3 linked regions of the Homo sapiens genome follow. The protein of the gene in region 1 interacts with the protein of each later gene in a pairwise test. Each region holds a gene or a part of one and is shown on either strand. Other genes may lie near its edges.

Region 1 (7,052 bases):
CATGTTACTCTGTGGATATAATACAGGTCCAAATTTGGAATCTGCTCCTTCAAGGTCCCCTGTTGGGGTTTTAGGTTAGGATTCTACCAGCTACTCTGGGAGAGGAGAAGAAAGGATTGGGCTCCCAGATATTCTCCTCATGACTTCTGCTATGACAGTCCTGGTTATATTCCTCATATCCTGTGGCCCCTGGTGCCTCCTCCTTCTGGGTCATTTACAGTCCTTACGTTGGTCACTGAAACTGTTGTATTGGCTGATTTTCTCTTTTCTCTCTGGCCAGGAATGACATATATCCTTTAGACTAGAGAGTGAAGTCATAGAATCTTCCGTTTTGTGTGTCTGTGTGTGTGTGTGTGTGTGTTGTTTTGCTGCCTTTTTGAATGACATTTAAGTGTTTCTGATGTATAGGAAATAGTGAAGATTTGAATTAGTTATATACATAAAAGGGTATTTGCAGCTGAAATGGCACAATTAAGAAGGAGATTGTTTCCCCAATGTCATTGTTCCATCTTAATCTTTTGTAATTTAAGCATGAGGGAATCAGCTACAAATTCAGACCAGTAATCATTAGGAATTAAGCATTATGTGGACATTCTCTGAGATGAGTATTTGCAGAGTAATTAATAAGGCTCATATGTTTTAAAGGATTTCAAAATTATGTTTTAAGAGATTTGGAATTCCACTTTTTTTTCTGAAATCAATTATTGGATTTTTTCCCCACTTCCAGGTTTCTGGTCTTTGGCATTTCAATTTGGAATTAATTGTATAGTGCAGGAAGATTCTCTGGACAAATTGCCTTAGATGGAGGGACATTTGAATCAGCTTGTTGAACTGATTGGATATCTTTGATATGCCAAGCTGTCTGCAGGGAATAGAGCAATGTGGAGATGAGGGAGAATATTTCTTGACCTCAGGGGGTTCTAAGTCTACTAGGGGAGGCATAGGTAGACTAACTTAATAACACCAGGTGGAATGAAATGAACGTTGACTAGGCATGTTCATATCATCATGGGGAGCCAGAGGAAGTCTTATGGGAGGTAACTTCTGAACGTGGGCCTTTTGAAGACAGAGATTTTGACTTATAGAGAATTTAGGAATGGTCATTTTGCGCTGATGGCTGGCGTGTGAGGCAGACAAGATTTGTGAAAATATGGAATACTGTCAAGTGGTTGCTTCCTCAGTGCTCTTGGGGACTCAGCAGGACACCCAAGAATGTGGGTAGGTTTTGAGCCTTTGAGACGTGTGCGCTATGCTTGCAAGCTGTCCTGCCTTGAGTAGGGCTGGAACAGCCAAACCAGCTGGACATACAGTTGAGCCCAATTTCTCTATATCCTGTCCTTCATTGAATCTACGAGCCCATCAGTTGCAGGACACATCATTCTTTTATGGACTTATAAGAAAAAAATGAGCTGATGGCATTTTGGCTTTCATCAAAAGAAAGAAAAAAAGGAAGAAGTGATACCTGAAAAAAGAGATTTATTTATTCCTTCAGTATATATTTATTTTAATTAATTAATGAATTTTAAAAAGTTAATTTTTAAAGGCTCCTTTTTTAGGGCAGTTTTAGGTTCACAGCAAAATTGAAAGGAAGGCACAGAGATTCCTCATATATCCCCTGCCCCCACACATGCACAACCTCCCCCATGATCAACATTCCCCAGCAGAGTAGTACATGTGTTACAATTGATGAACCTACAATGACACATCATTATCACCCAAAGTCCATAGTTCACATTAGGATTCACTCTTGATGGTTGGTAGACGTTCTATGGGTTGGACAAATGTATATGACTTATATCTACCGTTATAATATCATGCAGAGTATTTTCACTGCCCTAAAAATTCTCCATGCTCCACCTATTCATTCCTCCCACTTCCGAATTCTTGGCATCCACTGATGTTTTTACTGTCTCCATAGTTTTGCCTTTTCCAGAAAGTCATGTAATTGGATTCATGCATTACGTAGCCTTTTCAAACTGGCATTTTTCACTTAATAATATGCATTTACATTTTCTCTGTATCTTTCAGTGGCTTGATAGCTCATTTGTTTTGGTGCCGAAGAATATTCCATTGTCTGGATGTACCACAGTTTATTTATTCATTCACCTACTGAAGGACATCTGGGTTGCTTCTAAGTTTTGGCAATTATGACGAATGAAGCTGCTAGGGGCTAATACTTACTGAGTAACTACTATGTGCCGGGGACTGATCTTGGTTCTGGGATCACTGTGGTGAGCAAATTAGGTATAACTCCTACCATCATGCTGCTTGCTAGCAAGACAAATAGTCACAAAAGAGTAACACAATTGGGTTAGTTATGAAAAGTGTAAATGTTATGAAGAAATGATCCCCTGAGATAAAATAACCAAGGGACCTAAATTAGAGGATTAGCAAAGGCCATTTGAAGTCAGTGAAAGCCTCTCTGAGGAGTTGACCCTTGAGTCAAGCTCCAAGGAATGATGAGAAATGTGAGGAAGAGCATTCCAGGCACAAGGAAGAGCCCCTTCAAAGGCCCTGAGTTGGGAAGAGCTGGAGAACAGGGAGCAAGGGTGAAAGCGGTGTGAGAAGCTGGAGCTGCGGTAGAGGCCAGCTCACGGGGGACCACTTTTGGGTTAGGGACTGAGACTTCATTTTTAAAAAGCGCTGGAAATCTACTGAAGGGGGTTTGAGCAAGGGGCATGATCTGACCTGCACTTTTAAATGCTGCTTCTGGCTGCTGTGTGGAGAGCCAATTGGACTGAAGCGGGAGGAAAAGTAAGACTCCAGTTAGATGGTGCTAACTTAGGTCAGGGGCTGTCAGTAGAGAATGAGAGAGAGGGAGGTGGATTTGAGTTATACTGGGGGCAGGGATGCCATGCTGAACAACTCCAGGGGCACCAGTTACTTCCCTGTCCATCCCTTGGGCACGACATGTCCTGCTTGGGGCAGAATCATCATGACTTCATTGTAAGGAGTTAGGGGAAGAGTCAAGGACGATTCCCAGCTTTCTGTCCAACACCTGGGTGGTTGGAGGTGACAGGAAGTTAGTGAGAGGCAGGGGGCCTGTGGGGTGTGCTCCAGGCTTCAGTATTGGACAGCTGAGTTGAGCTGCTTGTGCGACAAGCAAGTGGAACTGTCATGGAGGCAGTGGGACACATGCTCCCAGAGATCTGGGCTGGAGAAGGAAACAAAGAGGGATGTTGGCCAGCCATTTACCAGGTTCTCTAAATGCTTTCCTTGGGGTAAGTTAGTTCACAGAACATAGAGCTTTTGGTCCAAGTACCATAGTTCCCAAACAATGCTTGCATTTACTGCTTTATTGTCTGTCTTTATTGAGATTCACTAAGACACAAGGTCATAGGGAGATTATTTCTGCATCTTTTCCAGATCCAGCAATCCATTCATTTTTATCTATCTATCTATCTATCTATCTATCTATCTATCTATCTATCTATCTATCTATCATCTATCTACCTACCTATCATCTGTCTACCATCTCTCTCTCTCTCTCTCTTTCTCTTTCCCTCCTTTTGTGGGGCAGGTCAGGCTGTTGGACTAGCTCACCACACGAAACTCTTTGTTCAATGAAGAAAAGTTATTTCTCAGTTTTAGCCAAGCTCCTTTCCAATTGAGGGCTCTTGTTTATGTTGTGTCCCTCTTCTTGGAATGATTAATTGCTCACTGTCCCTCCTTCCCTACCCTTACCCCCTCCTCACTCCTAACCATTTTCCTGTCCAATTCCTACTTTTCTTCTGGTCTCAGCTTGAATTCTTACTCCATTAGGGAAATCTATCCTGATCCCTTTATCCAGGTAAAATGTACCTATCATGCATTCTTCCAGGGCCCCATAAAGCTGTACTTTGCTTCTGGAGCACTTCGCCTCATGTAAATTGTGCAGTTATTTGATTGATACCTGACTGGAAGCCCTGTGAGGGCAGGGAATGTATCCAACAGTATGGCAGCCCTGGCACCTACCATATTGCTTCCCATACAATAGATACCCAGTAGGGTTTTGTTAATGAATAAATGGAGGGATGCCAGGGAACTGTCTTTTATTTTGTATGTGGCTGCCTTTCAATGACTCCCTTGAAGGAAAGAAAGCATATATCCTATATTTGTGGGTCTCTGTAACAAAATAGTCCAGAGCTGTCTAATTGAGATTCTGACTTTTATTTGTGGAAACTGATTTTGATCTGAAAATCCTACCAAGATAATCCCTATGCAAACTAGTTCCTCTAGACTTTCTAATAAGGAGCCTTGGACACACAAAGCTCATCATTCTTCCCAGAAGAAGATTAGGTCAGAATTGAACAGTCGAATGTATTTATATATTTTTATTTTATACTGCTGTCCACAAAGGTTACACCAGAGGCTTAGAGAGGCTCAGAGACTTACCTCGAGTCCTCAGCAGGTGGGTGGGTGAGGAGGTCCTACACCTACCTGATACCTTGGACACACAAAGCTCATCATTCTTCCCAGAAGAAGGGTAGGTGATAGCTTGGAGACTGGCTGGTGGTAGTGGTAGGTTCCGTGTTACAGTCCCACAGGGTCTTCTCAGAAGGGAAGTGGGATCCTCCCATTTACTGCCTTCTGTGTTGTGTGTGAAACTATTGACATGGCTTGCTTAATTACCAGCAGTTACTGATAAGACAGACTCCAGGCTGGCTTTGAGATTCAGCCACCCCAACAGCATTCAGGAAGGCAGCAACAAGGTCAAAAGATGCATTCATTGCCCTCTGATTGAATAGTGCAGGCTTTAGAGTTGGAAGCTGAGGCTCTTTGCAGATAAGCAGAGACTCTGTGGCTGCCAAGTCTATAACAATTTGACCATTTTTTTCAGGGAAATCTACAAAAATGCCAAAATGTTTACAAATAGGTACTTCCTGCTTTTGTACATTGTATGAAAACATGGGACATCTCTTACTGTTTTGGTTTCATTGTGAGAACATACAAAGCAGAGGTTGGAGCTCTTCTCCTAGCCCCTGCTGAGGAGTTGGTTGCTTTCTTCACCACAACCACTTTTCCCCCACAATAAAGATCTGTGTTGATTGTAAAAAATTTGGAAAATGCACAAAAACACTAAGATAATTCTGCCACCCATAACTAACATTTTTGCGTATATCCTTACAGACTTTTTTCTAAATATTGTGTGTGTGTGTATATATATATATATAACAAAATAGAATTATTTCGAGCATATTGCTTTGTCATCCCTTTTTTCCCTTCATTAATGGTATATCCTATCAAGGATACTGATTTGAGAAGCTGCATATATTCTGTTTATGGCTGTGTCATAATTCATTAACTCACATTCTTATATCTGGGCATATAATATTTGGTGTGCTTTTCTGTTTGCCAGAATTGTACACACCATTGTATTGAACATCCCCGTATATGAATGAATATATGAATACATGATTTTTTCCTTATTGTCAATTCTTTGAAGTAGAATTGAACAGTCAAATGGATTTATATACTTTTATACTGCTGTCCACAAAGGTTAGAACAGAGGCTCAGAGAGAGGCTCAGAGATTTATCTGGAGTCCCCAGCAGGTAGGTGGATGAGTAGGTCTTACACCCAGACGCTGTGCCCCCTATCCTTGGCAGGTTCCGGCAACCCAGGCCAGGCCCTGTTGCCTGTAAGTCTGGAACTCAGATCATCTACTGATGTCTATAAAGGGCAACTGTGTACCTTTCCTGGCCTCCTTTCAGTGATTTAATAATTTCAGTGGCTTTTTAATTAACTGCTGTTAGGGTAATTGGTCCAGGTCAAAACAGGCAGGAAGTTGCCTTACTCAACAGGCAGAGAGCCTCTGATGGCCTCAGTGGGCCGCTGCAGGGGCCCCATGACTGGGCTCTCCATGCCAACCTGGGTTCTCATCTGAGGCCCCATTGTTCTCCCTCCACCCCCTCCCTTACCAATTCACCTCTTCCATATGGCCTTTCTCAAACGCTGGTGCCACTAACTTACCCAGAAACCTTTGCTCACCGTCTATTGTCCACACATCCTCCTAGGATTGACCTACACACTTCCAACCAGACCACCTGGCTGACAGGGTGGTCCCAGGGCTTAGAGAGCATGCGGCCAGGTGATTTCTGGTCCTGCCTGCCTGCCTGTGATACCATTAGGCAGGCCATGGTGGTTATTCCTGTTTCAAATGCACATTCAGGAGTTGTTAGTAACTGAGGATAAATGTGTTTGTTTCTGATTTGGCCATCCCTACTTTTCTTCCAACAACTCTAAAAAAGTGGAGAGCAGCTGCAGGTGGAACTAGGCATCTCTCTATCCAGGCTTAGGTGGCAAAAGGAAAGACTCTGAGGTAGGACAGCCTGGGAAGATTCAGGGGTGCAATGTCCAGGGTGGGAGCACCAGAGGAGTTGGCCTGAGTGGAAACCCAGCTCTTCGGGTAGAGCCAGGCCTTCCAAGAGACAAATTAGCTGAAGGCCTTACTGGTGGCTGAGCGAGGGAGGTGGGGCCAAAGGAGAGGAGGGTGGCCTTCCATATACTCTGCCTGTTGAGTAAGGCAACTTCCTGCCTGTTTTGGCCTGGACCACCCAATTACCCTAACAGCAGTTAAAAAAGCCACTGAAATTATTAAATCACTGAAGGGAGGCCAGGAAAGTTACACAGTTGCCCTTTATAGAGGTCAGTAGATGAGCTGAGTTCCAGACTTAGAGGAACAGGAAGCCAAAGTTAATTGGTGCACCAATTTTTAAATTAATAGCCACACAAAATAGTATTGTCTTTCTTATCTTCAATAGACCTCTAAGTTGGGTGGCAGGACATGTGAGAAACCTGGGCACAGAGGCCAAACGTGTATCCACACAGTGCTTCTCAACTGGGGGCATTTGCAATGTCTGGAAACATTCTTGGTTGCCACACCTCCAGGGAGTAGGGGTGCTACTGGCATCTACGGGTAGAGGCCAAGGATGCTGCTAAACATCCTACTGTGCACAGGGCAGCCCCCACAGCAAAGAGCTTATCCAGCCTCAAATGTCAATAGTGCCAAGGTTGAGAAACTCTGGTCTATGGGAACAAAACTCTGTAGGCCTCTGGACAGTGGCAACTAGAA
Region 2 (7,052 bases), on another chromosome or scaffold:
GCATACCTGAGCCCTACATTTTCCCTCTCCCCGCTCCCTTTAGATGAAGGGTCACAGTAAGAAATGAATACATTTTTCTCAAAGTCTGGAAAAATGGCTTCAAATAAATATTAATCTACCGCAATCGATATATATGAGGAATGGAGAGGGGCTGGTAGGAGAGTGGTGACTACAGAACTATATTAAAACAAAGGTTGCAGTTAAAGAAAATCAGGGCAGAAAGCAAGGCAGCAGGCCTGAGGCTCTAATCACAGAACAGAGTGATGGAGATGAACCAATACTGCATGGATTAGCGATGAATTATTTTGAACCATAATCATATGCCTGCACAGGAGAGAGGCAAAAACTAACCATTGCTCGTAAACTGATGGCTGCTGATTTCCAGAGACAGAAAGAGAGAAGCAAAGAGAGAGAAAAGAATAAATTCATATGCTAAACTAATTCAGAATAATGAAAACCTAAAGATGGGGTTATACTTCAAGTAACATTTTATTTTTAATGTCTGCTACATACTACATAATATGGAGTGTTTTGAATATAAACTGTAAAGTTCTTAGATTCAAACAGGATTAAACCAACCATTTCTTCTAAGATTAGGATGCAATATATCTACTCTACATTCTTCACTGCCCAATAAAACCATTTTTGGACAACTTTGACATCCCCAAAATATAAATTTTTTAAGTATTTATGTATAAAGAAGAAACAGCATTCAAGAAATTAACTTCCTTTGGATAATCTGAAAAATTCATAGCAAATGAAGATTCAATTGTTAAAACTAATTTTGTTAGGAAGAAAAAACTAAAAACTGCTGGTAGCAAGAGATTCCTGAGATTCTTATGAACAGACTGTTTAAATGAAGAGCACTTTAATCAGTAGAGGAATCCTCACGTTTCTAATGTCTTGCTGTGCATTCTGCAGGTTATAGTAGCAGCTGGAAGAGGTCATATATCTCTTGTGAGCATCCCAAAAAGGCTCACTGCCAGACTGTTAAATTATGAATAAGCAATGAACAAAAGAATGCAGATACGGTGGTGACAAGATAATCCAAGCAAATTTATCTATGACAAATTTCACAGGATTAACAAATTACATTTACACAGAACAATAAAAATGTGCAAAAAAAAATGATGAGCCTACTTTGCCTTACAGCATTAGGAAAACAAAAAGTCACCAATCCACTGCATACATTTAAATTTAACTCAATCTAAAGTAAGACATTTATAATGTTCAAGATATCTTTGTAACTTTTTTCCATTTTAGATAGACATACACAAACATGGTATATCTCATACATATTTTATATATAATTTATGTTGTAAACAGTGTATATATATGTGTGTATCATGTGACATATATATGCTGTGTACACTATATACAAAAATCTTGTATAATTAAAAAAATTCATATACCTGAATAGAATATATATGTTTTTAGAAGTGGATTCTGATGAATAAATTATATTTGTAAAGGGAAAATGCCCCTTCCATCAGCACAATACATACTAGTTAATAAAATATCCATATTCATTCATGTCTCCATTTTCTAGGACCAGAGAGAGAAGTTCTGCAAACAATTTCAATCATTCCACTTGCCACCATTGAAATACTGCCATCTTTCTGAGCTAAAGTGCTTCTGAATGAAGTTTAGAGCTAGCATCCTTTTCCGCAGTGTTACTGTAGCAGAAAGGAAAAATCAGAGATTTGGGGAAGAGAGTGTTAATTATAGCTATATTCACACTTATATTGACCCTTAATCCAATATTAATTTTTCTTTATAAGAAAATTATTTTTATAAATCTTACAAATGAAAATGCCCTAGTTCATCAGATATAATGAAATATTATTGAAATGACCTATAAGTTTATAAAGTGGTCTTAAAATGCTGTGGGACACTACTTTCCAAAATATGCAATTAAGATTTGTAAGTTTAATGTTTTACACTAGGTACCCAACTCACAGCCCTTTAATTCTGCATTAGCATACTGATGATAATATAATAATGTAATCAGATGTAATCTCTTTTAAGATGATCTGATGGTGGTTAAAAATTTTGTAGTCTATTTTTCACTTATACTTCCTATTGACTTTTGTTTTTTATCTTCAATATTTCAGTAAAATATCCCTTTAAATTTTAAGTCCTTTGCAACTTAAAAGGCAACTTATCCTTTCATAAACAAGATATTTGCTGAATGTAAAAAATGAATCCAATACACAAGCGAATTATCTTGCAATCACAAATACTCAAGCACTTCTTATCTAGTCCTTTTAAGCCCGAAATTTCTATTATACCTATTATTTTTAAAGAAGCTATTTAGTTGACAATATTACATCCAAAAACGTAAAGATAAATGTGGCATGTTTGTCTGCTACTGAGATCTTGCATATATTCTGCAATGAACACCCACATCACACGCTACAAAGTTTCCTAAAGTACAGCTTTTGTTAAAGAACTGTTATGTATCAGACCAACCCTAGGGTTCCTGGCATAGAGGAAAAAAAGTTACCAAAGGCTAACTTTCCCTTCTTGAAGATGACTCTGTGTGTGTGTGTGTGTGTGTGTGTGTGTGTGTGTGTGCGCGTGTGTGTGTGTTGGGGGGATGGGGGAGTAAATAACTTACCATTTATGTATTTATTGTGGCCCATTTTAACATGTCATGTTTTTAATTAAATGAGTGAATGCATGTAAAGCTCTCAGAAGAGTACCTGTTTATTAGCACACGATGCTATATAAATGCTTGCTGCCATTATTATAATGCCAGATAATTTGGCAGGAGGCCAACTTGTACAAATCCTTACAAATTTCAAAAGACAATGTCCAGAAATACAGTTAGGTACTAAAATGAGTTATTCAGAAAGCCTTATGAGACAGTTTTTACACAACCAGTGGCAAAACTATCACAAAATAAAAATGCTTCAACTATAATCTTTAGAGAAACTTGTGGCACACTCTGAGCCATGAATTATATGAGCAGAAGAGGGCCTTGAGAACTTCATATGCTGTGACCAAAGAGGCAGATGTACGTGGCAAACTGATTCTTCTGGCACCACTCAGCTACAAATCTGCCCTGAAGTATGTATAGTTATGGAGCTTGCCCACAAAACTACTGGGATAGTAAAGGGTGAGGTAACGATGCTTTCAATATTGATTCTTTCTCTAATTTCATAAACACTGTATTTCTCCAAACATCTGATGAAGGACCAAAACAGAGGGCTATCGTTCACTACCCATAGTGAACTGGTCTTTCTGCCATTGGAACTCTCTGATATTGGCTCGGAAATCTCTGAGTTTGGAAAGTCTGAAAACGCAGGCCCTTCCACACTGGTGTTAAGGTACATTTCTACAAAGACTGTACTGCCTAAGTTCACCTGAGAGACAAACCTGAATTCAGTCTCTATCACCTTCCTTGGGAATGCTAAACCTCTATTTTCTCATGCATAAATGGGGATATTAGCACTTCCCTCATAGGTCAGTGGGGAAACTAAAGAGAAAATTATTGTGAAGCATGTAATATAGTGTCTGAAACATGGCAGTGTCCAATGTTTATATTATTATATAATCATCATCGTATATAACCTATTTTTATTTTTAAATCCCATCAAAATAACTTTTATAAAATTTACTACAATTTCACTTCAATTTATACAGTATCTTTTCTCTCTCTGTCCTCCAGGAGCCTCTAATCACTTTGTAGTCACTAATTACAATATTTTACAAGTTGAATAACTATCCTCACAGAACACTAAGCTAACAGAAGTGAAAAAAGAAAGCCTTATATTTCTATGAATTCATTACTTCTTACTCTTTTAGAAAAGGGTATCTTCTGGCTCTCTATAATATTTTGTATAACCAATAGAAGGGCAAGCCTACAACCAAAGCAACTGCTCTTACAAGGTATATATTTAGTACTGTACCTGGCACGCATAACCACGGTCCATGGTAGAGGTTCAATAAATGAAGCTGAATGAAAGAACCAGTCAATCATTACAGTCTAGGGCCAGGAGAACTGTGGGCCATAGTAACATAAGATCTTCATCTTGCTTCCCCTGATTTCACATACAAGACCACAGTATTTCAATTAATTCACCAAGACGTGATGTTTTACAAATGTATACAGAAAACTTCAACTATTGTTTAATGTTGTCACTGCCCTAGTCATTTCAGATACAGTAGCAGTTACTTTATTCTTACTAAGCCATGTCCTGTTTATGCATTGTAGTATTACTAATATTACTACACATTCTTCTAACTATTCTATCAAACTTAATAGTGCAAACATCCTATTCACACTAATGAGGCTCAGCGCAGTAAAAATACCATTCAGTTACAGTTGGTTTATTACACTGACCAATGAGGGGGGAAAAAAGGCCACTATTTACTGGGAAAATACTAACATCACCGAATGCAAACAATTGGATTTTCTGATAAATTCTAGTTCTTACTAATCATAGATATATTTAAAGTTTCACATATTCCATTATGTGCAATTTTGATAGCATTTAAAATTTAAAGAATAATATTTAATCAAGTAAAATTTAACATACTAACTTATTTACTAAGTTTCAGCCTTATTCATCCTAAGCAATTAAAGACACGTCTATAAAACACCTGAAGTTAGACTGTAGCCCAAATACAATGCAGAACTTTAAAAAATCAATTAGAATGATTAAATGTTATACGCAGAAAAAGTGACTGTGTAAACATAGCATGGAGGTGGCAGGAGCTACCTCTGCTTTCATGAGTGTTAATTTTCTTTAAATTTAGTGACATTTTGCATAAGACATAGGTTTACTAGAATTGTAGAAAAACAAAAACAGATTAAGGTTACATTAGGGTCATTATTAATAGTAAAGCACTTAAGGAAGTTAGTAGAGGAAAGCATTAAAAGGATTTTGAAACTTTTGTAATATATTCTCCATAAATATCCCCAAATAAAGGCCAGGCACAGTGGCTCACGCCTGTAATCCCAGCACTTTGGGAGGCTGAGGCAGGCAGATCACCTGAGGTCAGGAGTTTGAGACCAGCCTGGCCAACATGGTGAAACCCCTATCTCTACTAAAAATACAAAAATTAGCTGGGCGTATTGGCATGTGCCTGTAGTCCCAGCTATTTGGAAGGCTGAGACAGGAGAATCATTTGAAGGCAGAGGTTGCAGTGAGCTGAGATTGTGCCACTGCACTCCAGCATGCCTGGGCAACAGAGCAAGACTCTGTCTAAAAAAAAAAAAAAAAAGAAAAAGAAAAGAAATAAAGAAACAAAAAAGAAATCCCCAAATATGAAGACCTACTGCTTAAGAAAATAAATAATGCTTCCCCAAAAGTGTTGCTTTACAGAAGCCATAGAAAACCTCACCACAGAGCAGGGGATCCTAGCAGCAGGTCCTACTTCAAACAGACACAATTGTAACATAGCACTGAATCCCAGACCAGGATCTGGGGCAGGGAAGAGGAGTAAGGTGGTTCATAAGTATTCTGGCCTTCTCATAAAATAGCTATATTATAGTATAGGGCCAGCCATTGGGTAGAAGAATTACAGGGGAAGATCAAAATTCATATGACTAAAATTATCAAACTGCTCCAATTTCTGGATTATATTTGAAGTACAGTATAAGTCTTACCAATTGATTGCTGAGATATTAATTACACATCACTTTTAGCCATATTTTTAAGACTATATAAAGACACAGAAACCAAAACCTTACTAATAACACTACTAGGTGAAAACACCTCATGTAACTTTAAAAAAAAAAAAGTATCGAATAATGTTGAATTCAAGTTTGCTCATTTGCTCACTGTAAGGAATCAAATCTAGTGATTGGCATATTGCACATGTGGAGTAGTTATATGTCTTTCAATTCATAAATCAGAAATTGGAAATCTGAAAAGATGTTGTAATGAGGGAGGGTCTTACATAATAAAGGTCATTATAACTCCTGGCTCTGGAGCTATACGATCTAATATCCTCTCTGGTGGATCATGATATGCCCATGCATTACAGTTCTTGTTGACAGTCTGTTGCCTTGGAAATATTTCATTATTTCAGTTTTTCCATTTGTAGACCCTTGGCCTTGTGATATGAAGGCCATCCTATTTCATATTTTCGATTATCATTTAAGCAATCTTGTGGAGCTATTTATATATATAAGCAAGTGTTAGACAATGCATATAATCATTTATCACCCCTATTTAAGCTTATACTGTAGATAGAAATACCTCCAAAAACCAGTCTCCACCACCTTTACTTTTTAAACCAAAAGCCTTGTGCTACTGGGATACGCTTTGCAAATCAGCATGGGCATATCACATGCTTGACACTTCTCTCTGTCTAATTTTTTTGGTTATACATCCACATAGTAGAAAAACTTTGTGGTAGTGCTATATAATTTGCAGTCTATTGGCGTTTAAAGAAAATCAAACAAGTTTATGTACACAAGGTTTTCAACTTGTTCTTTCAGGCTCTAAAGAGACACTTTCTGTATATGTAATTCAGAGAAATGTAAGGAGCACTAAATAGTAACCAAAGACATTATCAAGAACGAGCTTATTTTTCTGAAATTTACATTATAAACATTACTATAAGGAAATGACTTTGGTACTGTATTACTATACACAGGTTAGACATTTCATAAATAAATGAGACAATTCAAAAGATATATTTTTCTCTGTAAGTTTCAGATTACTAATATATTTGAAAAGCAGTAAAGAATAAACTGTCCATAAATGCCTCTGTGAAATCAATGATTTTGAAAACATTTTTTTAAATAAATAGGAGGATACCATTTAAAACATATCCACAGAAAGTCATCTTTTATAAACATATTTGTGTTCAACTGCTACAAGGAAATACTTGTTAACCAACAAGTTCTAGGCACAATGTGCAAATAAAGGTGGAATTACTCACTTACTTGAAGCAAGTATGAAAAACAGCCCCCTCCTAAACAAATCATCTGATTTCCCATTTCTCATTACAAAGCCAAATCAACTTACATGTGTAATGTTTACACTTAAAGTGTTAAGAGCATTTAAAACCCTGACAACAAAGTGAACCCTTGG
Region 3 (7,052 bases), on another chromosome or scaffold:
AGCATATTTGTATAGTTGCTTGCCTGATATAAATGCAATATTAATGCCTTTAAAGTATGAATCTATGCCAAAGATCACTTGTTGTTTTACTAAAGAAAGATTACTTAGAGGAAATAAGAAAAATCATGTTTGCTCTCCCGGTTCTTCCAGTGGTTTGAGACACTGGTTTACACTTTATGCCGGATGTGCTTTTCTCCAATATCAGTGCTCGAGACACAGTGAAGCAAATTAAAAAAAAAAAAAAAAAAAATCCCTGAATGATGATTAGAGACATCACCGCTAAAAAACTACATTTATAAGCTAGGATTTGTTATATGCAAATATTTTCTGCCTCTTCTTTTGTTCTGTTTAAAACAATAAAATGCATTTGTATAAAAAATGCTTTAAATGATGGATATGTTACTTTAGCAAGAACTTTTAGGTCAGGTTTCTCCTTTGTTTTGATGAATAGTCAATGAAACTAATCCTCAAGATCTGGAAACTAAAGATTTTTATTTAATCCAAATGTTGCACTGGAAGAAGAAATCAACAGTGGTATATTTACTTAACAAGGATGTGTGTAATACAAGACAACCCTGGGGATTACACACTTGAAGGAATGGAAGTGGCAAAGGTTAACAGGCAGAAAGCAGCTGGATGAAACAGTTTATTTTCATCTTAGAAGATTCTAGCTATCTGTGGAGACCACCACTGTTCCCCGAAAAGCTAAAGTTGTTAAGTTTGTAGGAGTACCACAGGTCCTTCCCCCTGCTGCAAGACAGAGACTTGCTCTGTTGCCCAGGCTGCAGTGCAGTGGTGCAATCTCAGCTCACTGCAACCTCTGCCTCCCGGGTTCAAGCAATTCTCCTGCCTCAGCCTCCCATGTAGCTGGGATTACAGGTGTGCGCCACCATGCCTGGCTAATTTTTGTATTTTTAGTAGAGATGGAGTTTCACCATGTTGGCCAGGCTGGTCTCGAACTCCTGACCTCAAGTGATCCGCCCACCTTGACCTCCCAAAGTGCTGGGATTACAGGTGTGATCCACCACGCCCGGCCACACAGGTCCATTTTTCATATTCCAAAGCCCAGTATAGAATAAATAGGGTTTTCAGGGATCCACCAGGGCTATAAAACAGAGTTAGCTTTTGGGGACATAGTCCTCTTCTTCCTTAAAGAAACACTGACTAAAATAGTAGGAGCAGGTTTTTAGAGTAGAGTTGGGACATCACTTTTTCCCTGATTTTCTAGATCTGAAAGGGGTAACATGTCATTAAAGGGTGATGATATTGATATTTAGTGTTGCCAACTGCTATTATCACTGCTTTATCTTGGAAAGTTGCCGACTATAAAGACAGATTCCAGCCTGCTTGAGTTAAGGGAAAGGCCAAGGCTGCTACTGAATTAGCAGTTTCTAAAACTGTCTTGTTTTTGCCATTTACCATATGTTCACTGGTGCTGCCTTCCTGCTGTAGTATAATCATTTTCTCAAATCAGTTGCCTCTCAGGACAAGATCAGCATTTTCCTAGGGTCCTTCTGTAGCACCACTTAAGGAATGAACCTATCACAGGAACTCCCTTTGAATAAAATGATGGTGACTCCCACACGCAGGAAAGAATCATTTACTTCATTTGCTCTTGATATACTCCCTTATGAATTTAGAACAAGTGATCCAGGATTAGCTGTAACTCTGTGCTTGAAAAATATTTTACTACTACTAAGTATTCAGAAATCTTTGTTATCAGTAGGTGGTGGTAGTGATAGGGAAGGGAGCTTTGATCACTAATCTCTCAGACTGTGGCCAGAATGGTGATGCTTAAGCCAAGTATGAATGGCTATTAACATACTGAGGTTAGGGAAGGAGTACTGAGAAGTGCTTTGCAGCAACACTCGCAGCTTGTGTGATGATGCAGAAGAAAATCTGATCATGTTCACCCTGCTTTGACAATGAGCCTTGCCCATTGGAGAATGTTCAATCAATAGTAGACCTAAAAAAAATCAACTTGTTGCTTTCATCTTTTTATTGATAGCACAGCCAGAGCTACCAAAATGATTTACTGGATTCTAGCAAATTAATAAATACAGTAATTTGATTGTAAAAGGAAACATTCTACTTGGACATTTTAGTAGAAATTGCTAGAGGGAAGGAGCTCCTGGCGTACATTCTACTTGGATAGAAGAGAAGATAGCACAGGAGGAGAACTGGACAGTCCAGGTATAGATTGTTGAGATTAGGGATTCAGCAGAAAGCAAAGCAAATGTTCTCATTGTTCTTTTGAGGTACGAACTCTGAAGAGTCAAGACATTAAAAATAAAAAGCAATTGAACCGGGTAGCCAAACTTAGGCAAAAGGAATAAATATTTGGCAACATTTTGACTTTAACTGCCAATCTGAGATTAGTTTCTTCAGAAATTTGGAAGCTGCAAAACGTTGCCTTTCTTATTCCATGAAAGGCAGGGCAGGCAAAGGTAAGAAAACTGCTGAGTGGGCTCCTTGTACCAGCACCAACCAGCAGCCCTTGACAGCATAGATGGGATGAGTGTAAGGGCTATCCTTAGCATAAGGGAAAGACGGTTATAAGCTGAGAAGATTGAAAGAAGAATGGAGCCACAAAGAGAATAGCATAAATAACAAGAAGGAAACATGAAGAACAAGCACTTAAGATATTAACTTTCAGTCTTTCTCCATTTCTTGATGTCTAATGAGGCAAAATAACTGGGCAAGGACCACCAAGATGAAGAAGTTAAATAAAATGTCACAATGAAATTGAGTGCAATAATACAACTGTTGACTGACTTTCCAAAACCACGGTGATCGGTAGAGTATCATCAATGTTACCGAGGATTTTGTTTCTGCCTCATTATAACTCACTTCCATGTATTTTGTCAGTATAGTACGTATATTTAAGCACTCCAGTGACAATTATGACAATAGTTTCTGGAAGAAATCTATGACTATAGCTTTGGGAAGCACACAATATGAAAAGGGAATTTCCCCTAAAGACAAGGAATGCAGACAAATTCAAACCCTTAAGAACAACAACAAAAAAGATTTAAAAAGACTGATGACTGTGAGGCAGGCACATTTTCCTCCTTTTGCTGAACTGGGGCATGAGGCATTTAGGTTAACCATGGCTTAACTGGTGTTGGGTAAGCTTTATATTATAAAACATGAAGATGGCAAAGGTTTCACTTAAGTTTTTCTTTTACTACTTTAATTTGCTTAAAAGCACAAATGCTTGTGCTTGCAGTAACTTCCTAAAAGCAGAAGTAATGTTCCCTTTTACTACCTTAATAAAGCATTTGCCCCTTTGATACAAATGATTTTTTTACTGTGCTAACAGCTGAACCAGTGGCACAAAATTGAGATGGTATTTACTGCAGCAAGGTCCCTGTAAATCAAATTCTAAGCTTTACATAAAAATCTTATTTATAAAAAATACAATACCAAGTACAGTGAGAATGGAGCATGGAGCAGCAGTGCTCCCTGCCAGGGCCATGTGGAAGTGGCTTTTGCTACAGTGCTTGCTTAATGGCACAAGTGAAAAGCTGAATAAGGCAAACACTTGAAGAGGCAGTTTTCTGTAAACTTCTGGGGGTGGGGGGAATTTCCTCTCGGGACAGATACTGGTTTGGGATGGCTAAGATCAGAAGGTGTGATATTTGGCTGCACCTGACACATCACAGATTTAAGATAGCTTCTGCTGGATGAGACCAGTTAACTCTTTTAGGAGAGAGGTTATCACTACAGCTTTCTGCCTTTACTGTTACAATGTGCAGCCGCCAGATGGTATCCTCCTATGGAAAAAAATCACCTCCAAAATCTTCCTAAGTGAAAAGATACAAAATAAGCTAAGTCACTAAAAGGTTTCCTTAGCTTAAAGCTCCTTAAGAATCCTACATTGATAACTAAGTAACTTTGTTAGCGGTGTGTAGCTAGACACAAATGCTTTAACTAGAATATGTATTCCCACTCACTTGGTACCTAATAGTGATACATCGTAATGACACTTGGAAAACAAACTGGTCCTGAGGAATTTTGGCCTCTTCTCATGTCCTCACTTGGAACTTTCCAGCTTTCGTGACGTATTTGACTCCTTTAAATGGCTTATATTTCTCCCCATACATGTCCAAACGGTTTACTTTTAAGCCTGTATCAAAAAGAATGAAAAAGAATAAATTATCATCATCCCAACCAATATAATGTTAGCAATGAGCGCTATATGGTAAATCTGACATTAACCAGTGTCCCTTCCACCATTTGGAAGAAATGTCTCTTCTATCATTTACAAATTATTGCACTTTGATGGTATGGTTTTGGTTAAGATTCCCACACAGGCAGGGAATGTCTGTGAAGTATAATTCTACTTTCTGTGAATATGAATAACTCTCTTTTTGGTGCTTAAATGAGGGCGGAGGTGAGGGGAAGCTGTTTGAAATAAGGTGCTCTGAAAAATCATTTGGTCGGTGCCTGTGAGACTGCCCCACCAAGCACAGTATAAAAGGCAAATGGGCTACTGCTCTTTCTAGAGAAGGAAACTTTTGTTACTCTTCTAAATGCCTAATAAATGAGCTTGCAAAACTCAATTACCCTTAACTACAAGTCAACCTTATCCTTACCTGAAATAGCAAGCTGCTGGATCTTAAACTGTATGTTGAGGCTCGGATTCTCTTCTGGTTTGGGGGCTCCAGACTGTAAATTTACCAGTCCTTTAAGACTTGGGAGCTTTTGTGGAGTAATTTTTCCCACATCCCATGTTAGTACCTTAAAAAGACAAAAAATGAAAAACAAATAGAACCATTTATTAAAGACAAACCCTCAAAAACAAAGTTCAAAGATATCATAAACTTCTGTACAAACTGAAGTGCAGTCTCTTGAAAACAAGAGATCTGGCATCTACAGTGAGTTTACCTCTGATTAATTCTGTGACTTTGAATGGGGAGTGAGAGCAGAGAATCTACATTTGTTGAGCATTTTCTTTTGTATTAGCACCGTGCTTAGCATTATTCATATGTTGTCTCATTGAGGGCTGTGAAGTAGCTTTTGTCTTCTATTTACAAATGAGGAAATTAAAGCTCAGAGGACATTAAGGCTCAGAGATCAAATGACTCGCTCAAGGTCACATAGTTAGTCAGAGGTAAGGCTGGGATTTGAACCTAAGGCCCTCTGATTTCAAATGTTCTCCATCATAACCATCTTCACTTTTCTCTGGGCCTGTTTCTTTTTCTTTTTTTTTTGAGACAGAGTTTCACTCTTGTTGCCTAGGATGGAGTGCAATGGTGCAATCTTGGCTCACCACAAACTCTGCCTCCCAGGTTCAAGCGATGCTCCTGCCTCAGCCTCCCAAGCAGCTGGGATACAGGCATGCGCCACCATGCCCAGCTAATTTTGTAGTTTTAGTAGAGATGGGGTTTCTCCATGTTGGTCAGGCTGGTCTCGAACTCCTGACCTCAGGTGATCCACCCACCTCGGCCTCCCAAAGTGCTGGGATTACAGGCGTAAGCCACTGCGCCCAGCCTCTGTTTATTTTTCTGTAAAATAATTAGATTGACTTAAGATGGTGTTTTTAAAACTTTTAGCTGTGAAACCCATTGTTCAAATGAAATCTTCGGTGTGAAGGCTCAACAGCAGATGAGAAAGAAAGCAAAGCTGTCATAGTTGAAGCTGTGGTAAAGGGCCAGGAATCTGAAGCTCCCTTTCTCAGCCCTGTGTGGTCTCCAGGAGGAGGTTCTTTGAATCCTTACAACTGTATTAAATAATCTTTAACATTCTATGATGTTATTCAAAAAACATGTCTTTTCATTTATCAGGTAGCTCAATGACTCTGCTATTGAAAACAATCATATTTACCAGCTAATCAGGAAGCTGAGAGAAAATCATCTGCTACAGTTTCTCTGAAAACCCTCTGTTACACAAAAATTTAAGTAGAGTGAGGAAGCAACTTTCCTAGCCCTGTGAAAGAGTATGAAATAATGCTTTTAAATTATAAAGGAAGAAAAAGGTCTTAGTGATCAATTTATATAGAAAACTTAGTAATTCATAGACCATCATAATATCTTCTTCAATCTACATAATGTTTTCTCTTTTTAAAAAAGCTTTTACTTCTTTCTTATTAGATAGCAGAGTCAGGCTCTGGATTAATAATGGATGAGTGAAGGCACACTCTGAAAAAGGACAGAATGACACATTTTTCTGTTCATCTACTCAGTAGCAGCTGCAGGATTCCTTCTGCAGCCAGTGGCAGAAGCACAGCACAGTATGCTCTCTAGGTTTTGATACGAACTTTAGTTTTAAACAAGGTGCCAAACCTTTCCCTCCATTCCTCCCCACAAATCACAAAATAGATTGCAGAAACACTTGCTCACTCTTGATTTGAAGTGGCTGTACCTTGGTGACTGGATCAAATGTATAGCTGCCTTGTGTGGGTGTCAGGTTCATGTTCAGCACAACTTTTGGCATGTGAACTGTCACTGTAATTCCTTCAATAGTTTTCCCCATATTCTGCTTTGGTCCAATTGTTATATCAAATCTGCCGCAAGAACTGTTCTCCTTAAAGCTGATACTATGTTTCACATACACTGGTATTGCCACTAGACTAAAAAGAGAAACAGAGAAAGATACAAAAGCACAAACACAATTAATGGTGTGGGGAGAGCTCCAGAGGTATCCTGAAAACCTCTGTCCAGAGTATCCTACCCTGCCTTTAACTCCACAATAAGGTACTACAGAGTTGGCTCTCTGTAGCCACAGTTCTGCATCCTTGAATTTGACCAGCTGAGGATTGAAAATATTATTTCACAAAATTGGCCAGGCGTGGTGGCTCATGCCTGTAATCCCAGCACTTTGGGAGGCCGAGACCAGGGTTGGGAGGGGATCACCTGAGGTCAGGAGTTTGAGACCAGCCTGGCCAACATGATGAAACCTCGTCTCTACAAAAATTAGCTAGGGCTGGGCGCGGTGGCTCACACCTGTAATCTCAGTACTTTGGGAGGCTGAGGTGAGGAGTTCAAGACCAGCCTGGCCAACATGGTGAAACCTCGTCTCTACTAAAAATACAAAAATTAGCTGGGTGT

The links. The genes of interacting proteins can lie anywhere in the genome.
Region 2: the proteins of ARNT2 (region 1) and NPAS3 interact in binary tests that used the Homo sapiens proteins (3 or more experiments, as listed by UniProt).
Region 3: the proteins of ARNT2 (region 1) and AP3M1 interact in binary tests that used the Homo sapiens proteins (3 or more experiments, as listed by UniProt).

The regions. Positions count from the first base shown.
Region 1 is NC_000015.10:80,407,370-80,414,421, forward strand, and holds part of ARNT2 (aryl hydrocarbon receptor nuclear translocator 2), read left to right. Parts: intron 1-7,052. UniProt on the Homo sapiens protein: Transcription factor that plays a role in the development of the hypothalamo-pituitary axis, postnatal brain growth, and visual and renal function. Specifically recognizes the xenobiotic response element (XRE).
Region 2 is NC_000014.9:32,941,874-32,948,925, reverse strand, and holds part of NPAS3 (neuronal PAS domain-containing protein 3), read right to left. Parts: intron 1-7,052.
Region 3 is NC_000010.11:74,119,782-74,126,833, forward strand, and holds the end of AP3M1 (AP-3 complex subunit mu-1), read right to left. Parts: intron 6,575-7,052; coding exon 6,367-6,574; coding exon of another isoform or gene 6,345-6,366; intron 4,744-6,344; coding exon 4,599-4,743; intron 4,130-4,598; coding exon 4,029-4,129; 3' UTR 474-4,028; downstream 1-473. UniProt on the Homo sapiens protein: Part of the AP-3 complex, an adaptor-related complex which is not clathrin-associated. The complex is associated with the Golgi region as well as more peripheral structures.